Regions from separate parts of the Homo sapiens genome. Here regions 1 and 2 are each linked to region 3. Evidence: fine-mapped expression QTL. A gene starts in region 3. Each other region holds a variant in brackets. All regions are shown on one strand. Distances are between the middles of the regions. Region 1 overlaps LOC124900218 (a long non-coding RNA gene). Region 2 has its middle 690 kb from the start of TFAP2A-AS2. Region 3 holds the start of C6orf52 (chromosome 6 open reading frame 52).

Evidence for each region.
Region 1: its variant is fine-mapped to the expression of C6orf52 in visceral fat (GTEx, PIP 0.98).
Region 2: its variant is fine-mapped to the expression of C6orf52 in CD4 T cells (BLUEPRINT, PIP 0.95).

The regions. Positions count from the first base shown.
Region 1 is chr6:10,119,823-10,124,069 of GRCh38, forward strand. The region is part of intron 1 of LOC124900218 (a long non-coding RNA gene); the gene reads right to left. It also overlaps the pseudogene OFCC1. Among named protein-coding and RNA genes, the nearest start is that of TFAP2A-AS2, 280 kb to the right of the region's middle. The variant G/A (reference allele first, on the strand shown) is at 2,409.
Region 2 is chr6:9,708,143-9,712,389 of GRCh38, forward strand. It overlaps the pseudogene OFCC1. Among named protein-coding and RNA genes, the nearest start is that of TFAP2A-AS2, 690 kb to the right of the region's middle. The variant G/GA (reference allele first, on the strand shown) is at 2,534.
Region 3 is chr6:10,692,318-10,696,564 of GRCh38, forward strand. C6orf52 (chromosome 6 open reading frame 52) reads right to left here and starts at 2,299. Exons shown (of 5, transcript NM_001145020.3): 1 at 2,177-2,299. It overlaps PAK1IP1 (PAK1 interacting protein 1), which reads left to right and starts at 2,655. Exons shown (of 10, transcript NM_017906.3): 1 at 2,655-2,752. The coding sequence starts at 2,669. RefSeq lists enhancers at 2,213-2,262, 2,271-2,873, 2,303-2,682.

The DNA of each region.
Region 1 (4,247 bases), 570 kb before region 3:
GTCCCAGCTACTTGGGAGGCTGAGGCAGGAGAATGGTATAAACCCAGGAGGCAGAGCTTACAGTGAGCCGAGATTGTGCCACTGCACTCCAGCCTGGACAACAGAGCAAGACTGTCTCGAAAAAAAAAAAAAAGAAAAAGAAAAATCAAAATATTCTCTTTGAGACATCCCAGAAAGTTACTAAACTTCAGAGGCAAAAAAAGAATAATCTGGGGATCCAGACAAAAGATCAAGTATTTAGAGGAAGAAAAAAATGCTAGTCTCAAAGTTCAGAAAAATCAACGCCAGAAGACAGAGGAGCAGTGCCTGCGAGACCCTCTAGGAAAGAACACGTGACTGAGGTTTAAACCCAGACAGACTGTTATTTACCAATCACTTTTTCAGATACAACAAGATTTTAAATCTCAGTAGCTTTATTAAGAAACTATCAGAAAAGTAACTTCAGACAACCAAGAAAGAAATGGAGTCACTATGGCTAAAGGACTGGCACGGAGGGTTTTAAACGATGGAGCTGTGTGACCAAAACTTGAACGAATATGAGACTTGTAAATTAAAGAATAGACTTTTATAACTTTCAACTCTGACAATGTAGAAATTATATTTTTAAATAATTTTTTCTTTTTCTTTTTTTTTTTTTTAAGAAACGTGGTCTCACTTTGTTGCCCAGGTTGGTCTCAAACCTCTGAGGTCAACCAATCCCCCACCGTGGCCTCCAAAAATGCCAAGTGAGCCGCTTCACCTCCCAAAATGCTGGTGAGCCACTGTGCCCAGCCAGTATGATTTTTTTTAAGTTGAGATGGGAGGAAAAAAAGTAAAAAGGAATATAGTTTTGCTTATTTCTTCTTAAAAAATTGTTTTAATAGCCTGGGGTCAAATGAGGCAATTTAAACCTGACATATCAAATAACAAAGCAATAACTGCACTTAGAGATATAAATATAATTTTTTAAATAATATAAACAATTAAAATTGGATGATAGGAGGAAGTATGTAAGACAAACAAATTAATTTTCAATTGCTTGTATTAGAGAGTTGATAGATACTCTCTTGAAGAACAGAAGATTAAGTGTATTATATAATGTTATAGTTATTAAATAATCACTAGGATAAAAATTAAAACTTTTAAAATTATTATAAGAAGCAAAGAAAGCAGAGCATGAGATGAAATAATTAAAAAGAAACAATAACAGATAGCTTGGCATACTATATAAGAGAATTTAGAAATAAAACTCACTAGAAAACAAACCATCATCTGAAATATTAAAACTCTCTAGTAAACAACTCAGAAAAGAATAAGATCAAACCCGAAATTATGGAATATTTAGAAAATGATGGAAATGAAGCATTACATATCACCTAAGAGATATTGTCCAATCATGCTTAATGCAGAAACATTAGATGCAGTCTTACTAAAGACAGGAACAAGACACACATGTCCTCATCATCACTGTTAGTCCACATTGTTCTGAAAGTACTAGCCACTGCGTTTATTATTTAAAGACAATATTTACCTCTAAACACATAGGAGAAACAATTGAAAAACCACAATGACAAAAAAATTTAGGAAGGTGCCTCCAGTACAAAATCATTCTCCTTCCTATATAAAAACAAACAACCAATAAGAATATGAACTGAAGGGGGAAGAAACATTTATTATAGCAATAAAAGAATAAAATACATAGGAACAATAGACTTTTTTCACCAATAAAAAATTAGCATAAGAAGAAAACTTTTAAATGCTATTGAGGGACATGGAAGAACATTTAAATAAAGAAGCTTGTTTTAGGATAGCAGCAGCCAACACCAAAAATATATTTGTTCTTCCTGACATAATAAATTAAACACAATCTTCATAAAAATTCCAGAAAATTGTATTTGTGGAAAAAATTTGAAGAAAATATGTTTTAAATTTAAATAAAAAGAAAAATGGGAATTTTTGAGGCAAATTCTGTGAATGAAGAATAATAAAGGGGTGATCAAGTCTAACTTAAATTTCAATAGGCTATAATAATTCAAGTGGATAAATATTGCAAACAGGATAAAAAGCTCAGAAGTGGATCCAATATACACAAAAGTTGGCATTCCAAACTTATAAGCAGACAATAAATAATTCAGAAAATAGTTTGTGAACAACCGGAAACCCTGTGGAAAGAACGGAGTTGGGAAAATAGCTATCTCCCAACTTATATCAAAATAAATTCCAAATGGACAGAGGTTTAAACCGTACAATATAAAACCATCAACCTAAGAGCAAGGTTTTATAATAATGGACTAGGGAAGGTCCCTCTAAATATGACCTAAAATTCAAAAGCAATAGAACATTCATTGAAATGTATAAAAATAAAACTTTCCTGACTGGAAATAAGCCCTGTAACAAAATCAAAAGACAAATTACAAAACTGGGGGTGA[G/A]GGAGGAGTAGGGAATGCAATTAATATCACAAACACAGGCCGATGGCTATAATAAATAAACAGTTCTGACATATCCATAAAAGAAACAGAAAAACTAAGCAAAAAGATACATATTCACAAACATACATATATTGTACATATTTACATATATGTATATGAGTGTGTATGCACAAAAACACACATATACATATGGGAGTTTCACAGAAAAAGGAACTAAAAAGGTCTTTTAGTCACATGGAAAGATGTTCAACTTCATTCATAATAAGAAATAAAAATTAGAACTTAACTAAAAGAACTTAATTTGTTTAACCTATGAGATTAGCAAAGTTAGATAGAGTTTGATAATAGTGTGTTATCCTATGTACACAGAGGTACTTTCCTAGAAAAGTAAGTGAAAAAATTGTCCAACCACCATACTAATCACCCTGATTTGATCATCAGACATTATATGTACTACAGCATCACTATGTACCCTATAAACATGTACAGTTATTATGTGTCAATCAAAACATTAAAAATGTTTTTAAAATTTTTAAAGCACGGATTACTTATGCTATTATCTTACATTAGTTTGGGCTACTTTTAAGCTTCATAGAAATGGAATCTTGCAGTTCCTACACTCTTGTCACCAGCTTCTTTTACTTATCACATTGACTGTGATTTATCCGTGTCACTTTATATAATGGGTTTTGTTCTTTTCATTCCATGATGTGAATCTACCACAATTTATCCAGTCAACGGTGAGTGGACTTTTCAGTTGTTTCCAGTTTGAAGCTGTGAGGAATAATGCTACTGTAAATAGTCTTGCACAAGTCTTTTGGTGCACTACATGGTGATGGTTAAGCCAGAGACAGCTAAAGAGTTGTGGAGATAGCTGGGTAGACTACAGATATTAAGAAGGGTGAAGGTAAATAGCCCTAAATTATACCCAAATGCTCTTCATTGCTCAAATATAATAACAATAGCAATAAGTCCAAAAAGTGTTACCCTCAATGGTATGTATCACTTTCAGCCTTGGTTTCATAAAATAGCACATAGTTTTTTAACAAGCATAAGCTAAAAAAAAATGTGCCACTTAATTAGCTTCACAAATGGCTGCCTTGCTGTTTTCTACTTATTTTAGGGTGGATTTGATCTGTATGTATTCAACCCTGAACTTCAGCAATATAAATGACCATGCTTGCCCTTATCCACCTTCTTACAATATGTGACTGAGAGGGACATACCAAGATCGAGGACTAAGGATTTCTTAGGAATGTGAATTCACAGACTGGAAGGCAGAGGGCAAAAATCATCTTAAATCTTTGTTTAAAATACTTTCATTTTAAAATGCTACTCTAAATTGTTTTGTTTTGTTTTGTTTTGTTTGAGGCGGAGTCTCTCTCTGTCACCAGGCTGGAGTGCGGTGGCGTGATCTCAGCTCACTGCAATGTCCAGCTCCTGGGTTCAAGCGATTCTCCTGCCCCAGCCTCCCCAGTAGCTGGGACTACAGGTGCACGCACCATGCCCAGCTAATTTTTGTATATTTAGTAGAGACGGGGTTTCACCATGTTGGCCAGGATGGTCTCAATCTGCTGACCTCGTGATCTGCCCGCCTTAGCTTCCCAAAGTGCTGGGATTACAGGCGTGAGCCACCACACCCGGCCTAAACTGTATTTTTTTTATAATAACATAAGCTTTAAACTAAGACTGATCTGCAGAGGTCTTAACATAAAGGTGTTTGTTTCTGAAGAAAACTTTGCTTCTGAAAAAGTTATTGTATGACATTTCCAATGCAAATAATACCTAGACGCAGAAAACAGCTGCAAAAAATGTCATATATTTAATTTCTTAAATAGC
Region 2 (4,247 bases), 980 kb before region 3:
CACATTATAGGAGAACATAAAGAAACATGAATTAGGGAAATGCAAATCAAAACCACAATGAAATGCCACCTCACATCTGTTAAAATGCCTACCATAAACACACACACACAGACACACACGCATGTGCAATAAGTGTTTGGAAGGATGTGAAGAAATTAAAACCTTTGTGTACTATTGGCAGGAAAGTAAAATGGTTCAACCACCATGGAAAAAAGTATGGTATGTTCTCAAAAAATTAAAAATAGAATGACTATATGATTCAGCAATTCCACCTTTGGATATATATCCAAAAGAATTGAAAGCAGGGTCCAGAAGTGATATTTGTGTACCCATGATTATAACAGCATTATTCACAATAGCCAAGATGTGAAAACAATATAAATGTCCATTGGTCGATGAATGGATAAACAAAATGTGGTGTATATATATATATATATATATATATATATATATATATATATATATACATACAATGGGATATTACTCAGCTTTAACAAAGAAGGAAATTCTACAACATGGATGCTACATGGATGAACCCTGTGGACACTGTGCTAAGAAAGATAAGCCAGTCACAAAAGAACACATACTTATGATTTTACTTACAGGAGGAGGTATCTGAAATAGTCAAAATCATAGAAACAGAAAGTAGAATCGTGGTTGGCAGGTGTGCAGGAGAGGGGAAATGAGGAGTTGCTAATAGTATAGAATTTCAGTTTTTCAAGATAAAAAAAGTCAGATTTGTTGCACAACAACGGGAATGTACTTACCACTGAACTGTAACTTAAAAATGGCTAAGATGGTAAGTTTTATGTTATGAGGATTTTACCATAATTGAACAGTTTTTTATAATAAACATGAAAATAAATTATTGTAAATGGTAAATTTACTTTTTATCTTTAAAATCTAAAATACATTCCTGCTTATCTCACTTACCCACAATGATCTCTCTACATGAAGATTAAATTATTTGCATGTGACTTTTTAAAGATCAATTTTCATTTTAAAAATTGAAATTATCAGTATGCCACTAAAAATCTATGAATACAAATCCAAAACTTAAGAACTTTTTCATTCCATAACACAATACTGATATTTTTGGTTGAAACAAAATATAAAAGGATCTCATACAAAGTATTCTGATTCAGCTCTGATCTCTTCTCTATATTTGGCATTAAGGACAAGAGATGTCAAAGTTTCTAAAATTATAGTTTTTGCAAGAGAAAAGATGAAGAGGCCATCTGAAAATTACTGAACAATCAGAAAGCATTTTCTACTCAGTCCAAACAATTTGTGGAGGTAGCATACAACAGAGTTACCACAGTGTTGCGACTAAAATCTCTGGGAGCTGACAGCCTGGATATAATTATTCTCTATGCCTTAGTTTCCTCACTTGGAAAAAGAAGTTTGTAATAGCACCCAGACCTCAGGGTCAGATATCAAACAATTTGAACCACATTATCACTGTGGTACATTCACAAAACAATGAACACATACTCTGTTGCTTCTCTTTCTTTCTCCTTTTCTAATATTTCCCAGTCCTACTTTGAACTAGTCTGGGCTTCCATTGAGCCCAAGAAATGTAGAAAACCTATCTAAATGATGATATGATTCCTTTTATTTTTAAAGGTATATATGGATATGCAAATATTTGTTATTTAATTAAAGCAGTAAATCGCATGGGTATATACCACGTGTTTTATTAAACCAGTAATTGATCTTTATAATAACTAGACTGTAAATTCCTGGATTAGTATGCCTAATTTTATTCTAGAAAGATTTTCCAGAATGAGATAGTAGATTCCTCAATGAAAAATAGTCCTAATAATAAACATGTTACCAAAGGAGAAACTAGTAACAGACTAAGCAGTTCAGTGACTTAATGACAAACCACAGCAAGTCAGAGCAGTGCTGGGGACAGCACAGAAATGGAATTCATGGACATATTCAAAAGATGTTACATACAAAAGCTCATTGCTCTCCGAAGATTATCAAATGTGATGACATAACATGGGAAGAGAGGATAAATCATGAAAACAACAGTGGGGAAAAAAGAAAGAAAGAAAAAACAACAAGTAAATCTACTATTCCCTCTTAGCATTCCAGACCATGACTACAGCCTTTTGGTCTGCACAGAACTAGTGAGGCACCAAACCTGATACTGACAATTCCTTTTTGTTGTTCTTCTGTGTGTTTCTCCATGAAGGTGTAGCCCCTCACCTAATGGAAAGCAAGATGCAGTCTTTGCATTGAGCATTCTTTTCCATTACAAAAATGAGGAACAGTTAAACAGGAAACAGACCCCAAGAAAGTTTGGTTTATATACAGTAACGTAGTCAGGGGCTAACTCTCTTGTAGAAGGGATTTCAGAATACCTCACTCCATTTACCACCATGTGAAATGAAATGCAGAACTTTCCACACTGCTAAAGCAAAATACCCTGTACATGATCTCCTCCTCGGTTAATTACTCTGTCATTGTTTTGCCTCTTCAAAGGGAAGGGAAAATCAAATGCAGATTTGGCATTGTGTTGTTT[G/GA]AAAAAAAAAAAAAAAAAAAACCTGGAAAGTCTCAAATGATGCAAAACAGAAAAGACAGTAGCTTCTTTGACCTTTGGAAATTTCCACTGTTCTTTTCATATCCATTGACATAAATGACTAAGCAGTTTAAGTGGCGTATGCACAGAACCCACTATAAAGTGAGTCTTTTACCATTAGTTTTACTAATAAAATGTTTCCTATGCACATTAAGATATATGTGCTTTTTTTTTTTTTTTTACCAGACTTTTGATTTAGGACAAATAACACTAAAATTTCATTAGGAACCACTTAGCTCTAATTCAAAATATTCAATTATTTTATACCTAGTCACTACAAGTCAGGATTTGATTTTGATTTATCTAATAATGGTAACTATTATTAGATATATGTGGATTCAAAGAATCAGGAAAATCCCTGAATCGATAATTGAGAGTTTAGAAATTTATATACTGCAAATTAGAAATTAACAAAACAATCAGTTGATACTGAATGATGCCAAATAAAAGGCTATATCAAAAGCTAATTGAGCAAAACTAGTCAAGTATAGTGTTATTAACAATGCCCACACAGAAACAAAATATGACAGTCTTTTAATCATTTCAAATTTGCCCTTGAAATCTAAATGTATACAATTTAGAATTGTTGTAGAATTATCTCTACAACTTTCTCTTCACTTATAATTCTTGAAATATTTTTCATTAAAAAGAATTTTGCTTCCATGTTTCAAAACTGTCTTGAAAGAGAACATCTTTTGTATCCTTATAGATATGCAAGGCACATGATAAAATGCAGTGTCATTGTGGAATGTCTTCATCCATATTGCAACTGTTCTTTGCCTTCCTCTGTAATCTTTCTTGGTTATGTACAAAGAGTATGACCATCAAAAGGATAATAAATGGCCTCTGCCACTGGGGTGTGTAATATGTATAGTGGGAATTGATTTGTTGGTTATGAAGGAAGCCATAGAGCACACAGATCACTGCAAAATCACATTGAGGCCAGCAGCTACTTCTCAGTTCATGCGGACATCTCCTCTGTTGCTCACAGGGTGAGCTGCCAGAGGGTGAGAAGAATGGTAAGGTCATCCAGTATTCAGCTATTAAATGAAACCTATTTCTCTGAACTTTAGCCACATTTCAAATGACACACATATATCCACCTTCCATGCCCACTCCTAATAAAGACCTGAAATCAAACAAGATTTCTATGATCCATCCATGTAATCATAATAAAAAAAGACCAAAATTGCTTTGGAAAAAATAAAAGAGAATGCATAAAAAAGAGAATGCATTCTTAAACTACTCTCTTCCACAGTTAACAAGAATCCTTAGGAATTAGGAATTTGGATAAAACAAAGAGCCACCACTCATCAATTATGCATAATAATTCTTATTTAAAAATCACTACCAATAGATGGCACTAAAAATTTCCATATTCCTTTCTTTTGGCATAACCAAACATACTCTGGTTGTAGCATTTTTAAAAAATTAAGGTGCTTTTTTCATTATAATCATCTATAACTAATTATTTTATTTAGGTACTTATTATTTTCTTTTCTACCATATCCCACTCATCAGCAAGTTTTTGAGCATGGATATCCTCAGTGACTTCTGAGGCTTTCTAAGACTTAATAGTCACCTTTTCAGGGAGTCATTATCATGAAAATATCAAAGAAACATGCATCCATCATATCATGTCACTGTTGGAGAAGGC
Region 3 (4,247 bases):
CACACTCCTCTAATCTTAGTGGTTCTCTGGTGGAAACTTACACATTACAAAAAAAGTAATCTATTCTAAATCCTAAAATAATTTGATTTTTTGTAACACAATGAAGATAACTAGCACAAAGTAAAGAAAGAATGACTTTTTTTTTGAGACAGTCTCACTCTTGCCCACGCTGGAGTGCAGTGGCGGGATCTCGGCTCACTGCAATCTCCACCTCCCTAATTCAAGCGATTCTCCCGCCTCACCCTCCCGAGTAGCTGGGACTATAGGCGCCCACCACCACACCCAGCTAATTTTTGTATTTTTAGTAGAGACGGGGTTTCACCATGTTGGCCAGGATGGTCTCGATCTCTTGATCTCGTCAAAGTGCTGGGATTACAGGCATGCGTGAGCCACTGCGTCTGGCCATTTTATTTTATTTTTTGAGACAGAGTCCTGACCTCAAGCAATCCGCCTGCCTAGGCCTCGCAAAGTGCTGGGATTACAGGAGTGAGCCACCGTGCCCAGCCAAGAAAGATTTTGGAAGAGTGAATGAATACAAGGATTTCCACTAGACTGAGAATTAGTTTGTCAACAGCATTTCAGTGTCTTGAGAAGTGTTTACATTTGGCGTGGACAAAGCTGGCAGATGACGTAGAAAGTAAAAAGTTGCCTCTTCAAAGTTTCCCTTCTTGTTAAAGAATAAATCATAAATGTTAGAAACAATAGTTTCTTTTAAAGACTAACTTACTTCAAGCCTCCTTGCTTTGTGCTAATAACTCTGTTAAGCCCTATTGTATGTAACTGCGGGACATGCTCACAGGCCCAGGCACGTTCCAGCTCACAGCCTGTTTAGCAAATCGGGTATCAGTTTAAGATTATGAGGTCCAGCCCCAGCCAACGGATGCAGGACACAGCAGTAAGGACAACCCAAAGGCGTAAGGGACAAATATGTCTGCTTTTCCTTTGTTCAGGAGTGCTCTCACCATCGTTCCATCTGCAATTGAGCACCCTTTCTGCATAAAGTAAAAATTGCCTTGCTGAGAGATCTTTTGTCTCCATGCTGACTTTTCTTCGTGTCACCAATTATCTATTTCTAACAATAACAAGGTCTTTTCTGCACTGCAGTGACAACCAAAGCATCCCAAATGAAATCATTTCTGCAAGACCCAAACTAGCCTCTATTAACACGTACTAACAATTCAGAACACCAGAGAAGAAAAGTTATTGGAAACAAAAGGGTCTAAGCGCTGAAGCACTGTATCGCACTTGAAATGGAGGCTGAAGATTTGAGAAGGATGGACTATGCATCTTGTTTACCAAATGACCTACTACGGTGTTTATGAGAACTATACGAACCAAGATTTACTCTGTTGGGAGCTTGTAGGAAAGCTGTAATGTCTAAGACATACCTGAATCTCTAAACCTTATTAAATAAAACTTTTTTTTTCTTTGAAAGGGGGCCTGGCTCGTCCCCCAGACTGGAATGCAGTGGAGCGATCTCGGCTCACTGCAGCCTCGACCTCCTGGGCTCAAGCAATCCTCCCACCTCAGCCTTCCGAGTTGCTGAGGCCACAGGCGGGCGTCGCCATGCTGGGCTAATTTATAACATTTTTGTAGAGACGGCATCAAAATATGTTGCTCAGGCTCACTTTGTTTTCCCAACTCTCAAATGAAGGCTCTGGCCGGGCGCTGTGGCTCACGCCTGCAATCCCAGCAACTTTGGGAGGTCGAGGCAAGCGGATCACCTGCGGTCGGGAGTTCAAAACCAGCCTAGCCAACATGGAGAAACCCTGTCTCTACTAAAAAATACAAAATTAGCCAGGCGTGGTGGCGTATGCCTGTAATCCCAGCTACTCGGGAGGCTGAGGCAGGAGAATTGCTTGAACCCGGGAGGCAGAGGTTGCGGTGAGCCGAAATCGCGCCACCGGACTCCAGCCTGGGCAAAAAGAGCGAAACTCCGTCTCAAAAAAAAAAAAAAAAAAATGAAGGCTCACTGCTCCCTCCCCAGGAGGTGCCGCAACCTTGGCCAATACAGCCCCAGAGTTAGACAAGCAGACAGAGAAAGTGTGCAGGGCTGGGGTTCTGGCCCGGGCAGACGGGAACGCGGACACATCTAGCACTCCGAGTCCGTCAAGGCAGCGCGAGCGCTGCGCCGCTGGAACAAGTCACCGCGAACCCTAATCCCACCCCTCCTTACCCTATTAACGACAGAAAGCCTCGTTCCGCTGGTCCCTGAACAAAAACTCCTACCCTACTAGTACACAGCCCACAACAATGCACGCTGCCGGCGCTACAGCCCCTAAGCAACCGGCCGGAAGTCGGCCCCACCTCCTCCTGATGTCACGGAAATGAAGGGCTTCGCAGAGGATGTCCCGCCCGCTCCCTTCAGACGGGCGTAGCTGGCACCTTCCTGAGATATGCCTGCTTGCCCCCGATTTTTTTCTCCTTGCAGTGAGAACCTCCTCATGTGGCATCTTTACTTATTCTCTTCTTGGAAAATCCATGTGACCTCCCCGCGCTTAAAGTGTTTCCACGTTACAGGCGACTTAAAGGCAGCCCTGGAGCCTGACGTATAATTCGAGCGCCGATGCAGAAAGGAGTCAGGTGTTTTTTTTTTTTTTTTTTTGGTTTCCGGTTCTGTCACCTCCAGGCTGAGCCGGGCTGGCGGAAGAGGCACGTGCGCTGCTGAATGGAGCTGGTCGCTGGTTGCTACGAGCAGGTCCTCTTTGGGTTCGCTGTACACCCGGAGCCCGAGGCTTGCGGCGACCACGAGGTGAGATACCGCGTAGTTAGAGACAGTCGGAGGCGGGGCCGGGAAGGTCGGGTTTGGTTCCTACACAGCAGAGGTGAACATTGGAGCGCCTGCTGTTCACTGGATGATTTGATGAATCAAACCTAAGAGACTTAAGAGAAAAGCTAACCTTTTAAACCGTAGAATGGACATTTTATCAAAATGAGGCAATATCTGCCTTTTCTAGTAGACAAAAGGTCCACGGGACACAAAGGAAACCGGCATTTCTGCATACGGACAAATGAGTCGTAGATTGTGGATTTAAGGATCGATCCCATAAGTTGACAGTATTCAGAATTTAATGAAAGAAGATCTCGCTCTTTTGCTGAATTTCTGCCCTGGAATTTTACAAATTACTAGAACTAGATTAGGATAAATCCCTTATAGGTAAAGCGATACCAATTCATTATTTGTTGGGAACTTATGGCGAGCTGGGCGGTGGAGATGCAAAGATGCTGGAGGTATGGATCTTGCCTTAGAGACGTTGCCTACATAAGGGGTGGAGGACTGAGGAGACGCATAGATGGAGAGAAATTACAGCAGAATATGATATTACTAGATGTGTGAATAGATAAAAAGGTCAAATAAATTATCAGTAGTCAAATAGGTAGATAGGACTATACTCACGACTAGGAATCCGACCTCCTAACATCTAGCTCACTTTTATTCTTGAAGCAATTCTAAGCATTTTCTAGAAAATTGAGTACAGTACTTCTTTATGAAGTCAAGGCGTCGGTCTTTAATTATCCAGAAAATTTGGAAGTATATCACTTGGCCTATTGCTTTCGTTTATTTTGTTTCCTACTCCAGTTATTTGCTCTTTGTCTTTGGCTGAAAAGTGATGTGTTTTGAATAGTCAAAGATGATGCTATTTAATTTTTTTTTTTTGTAGTGAAATTACTTAACTGTGTTCCAGACACACAGTAGTCCTCACAGCAACCCTCTGAGGAGGATGCAGTTATTCTCGTTTTGCAGATGAAGTACCAAAATGTTGGTCCTAGATAGGTTAAGTGACTGCTGAAGGACACACAGATAATAATTGACACAGCTGACCCCAAAATGTCAGGAGCCCCCGAGGGTCTCTGACATTTGAAACTCTTAACCATTACCCTATACTTCTACTAAATCTAAGCAATAGCCTAGATAACCTACATTATGTGAATTTTAAAAGGTTATTATTTGATTTAAGGCCATAGCAGACCCGCAAAAATGCTTGATTCAAAGGAGGCCCCCTTGGTCTTAAATGATGGAAGGAGTATCTTCTGTAACTAAGGACCTGATTTGCAGTAACACATGTTCAAAGAAGTTTGATGGGTTTTTTTCTTTTTCGGTTTGTTTTGCAAATACTTTTTGATGCAGTTCCTTCAGTTTAAGGAGTGAGTGAGTGTGTGTGTGTGTCTGTGTATTTTGCTGTCATGCTTCGCACTCATCCAATCAGACTTCCTAATGCTATTGTCACATGGCAATAAGCACAGAG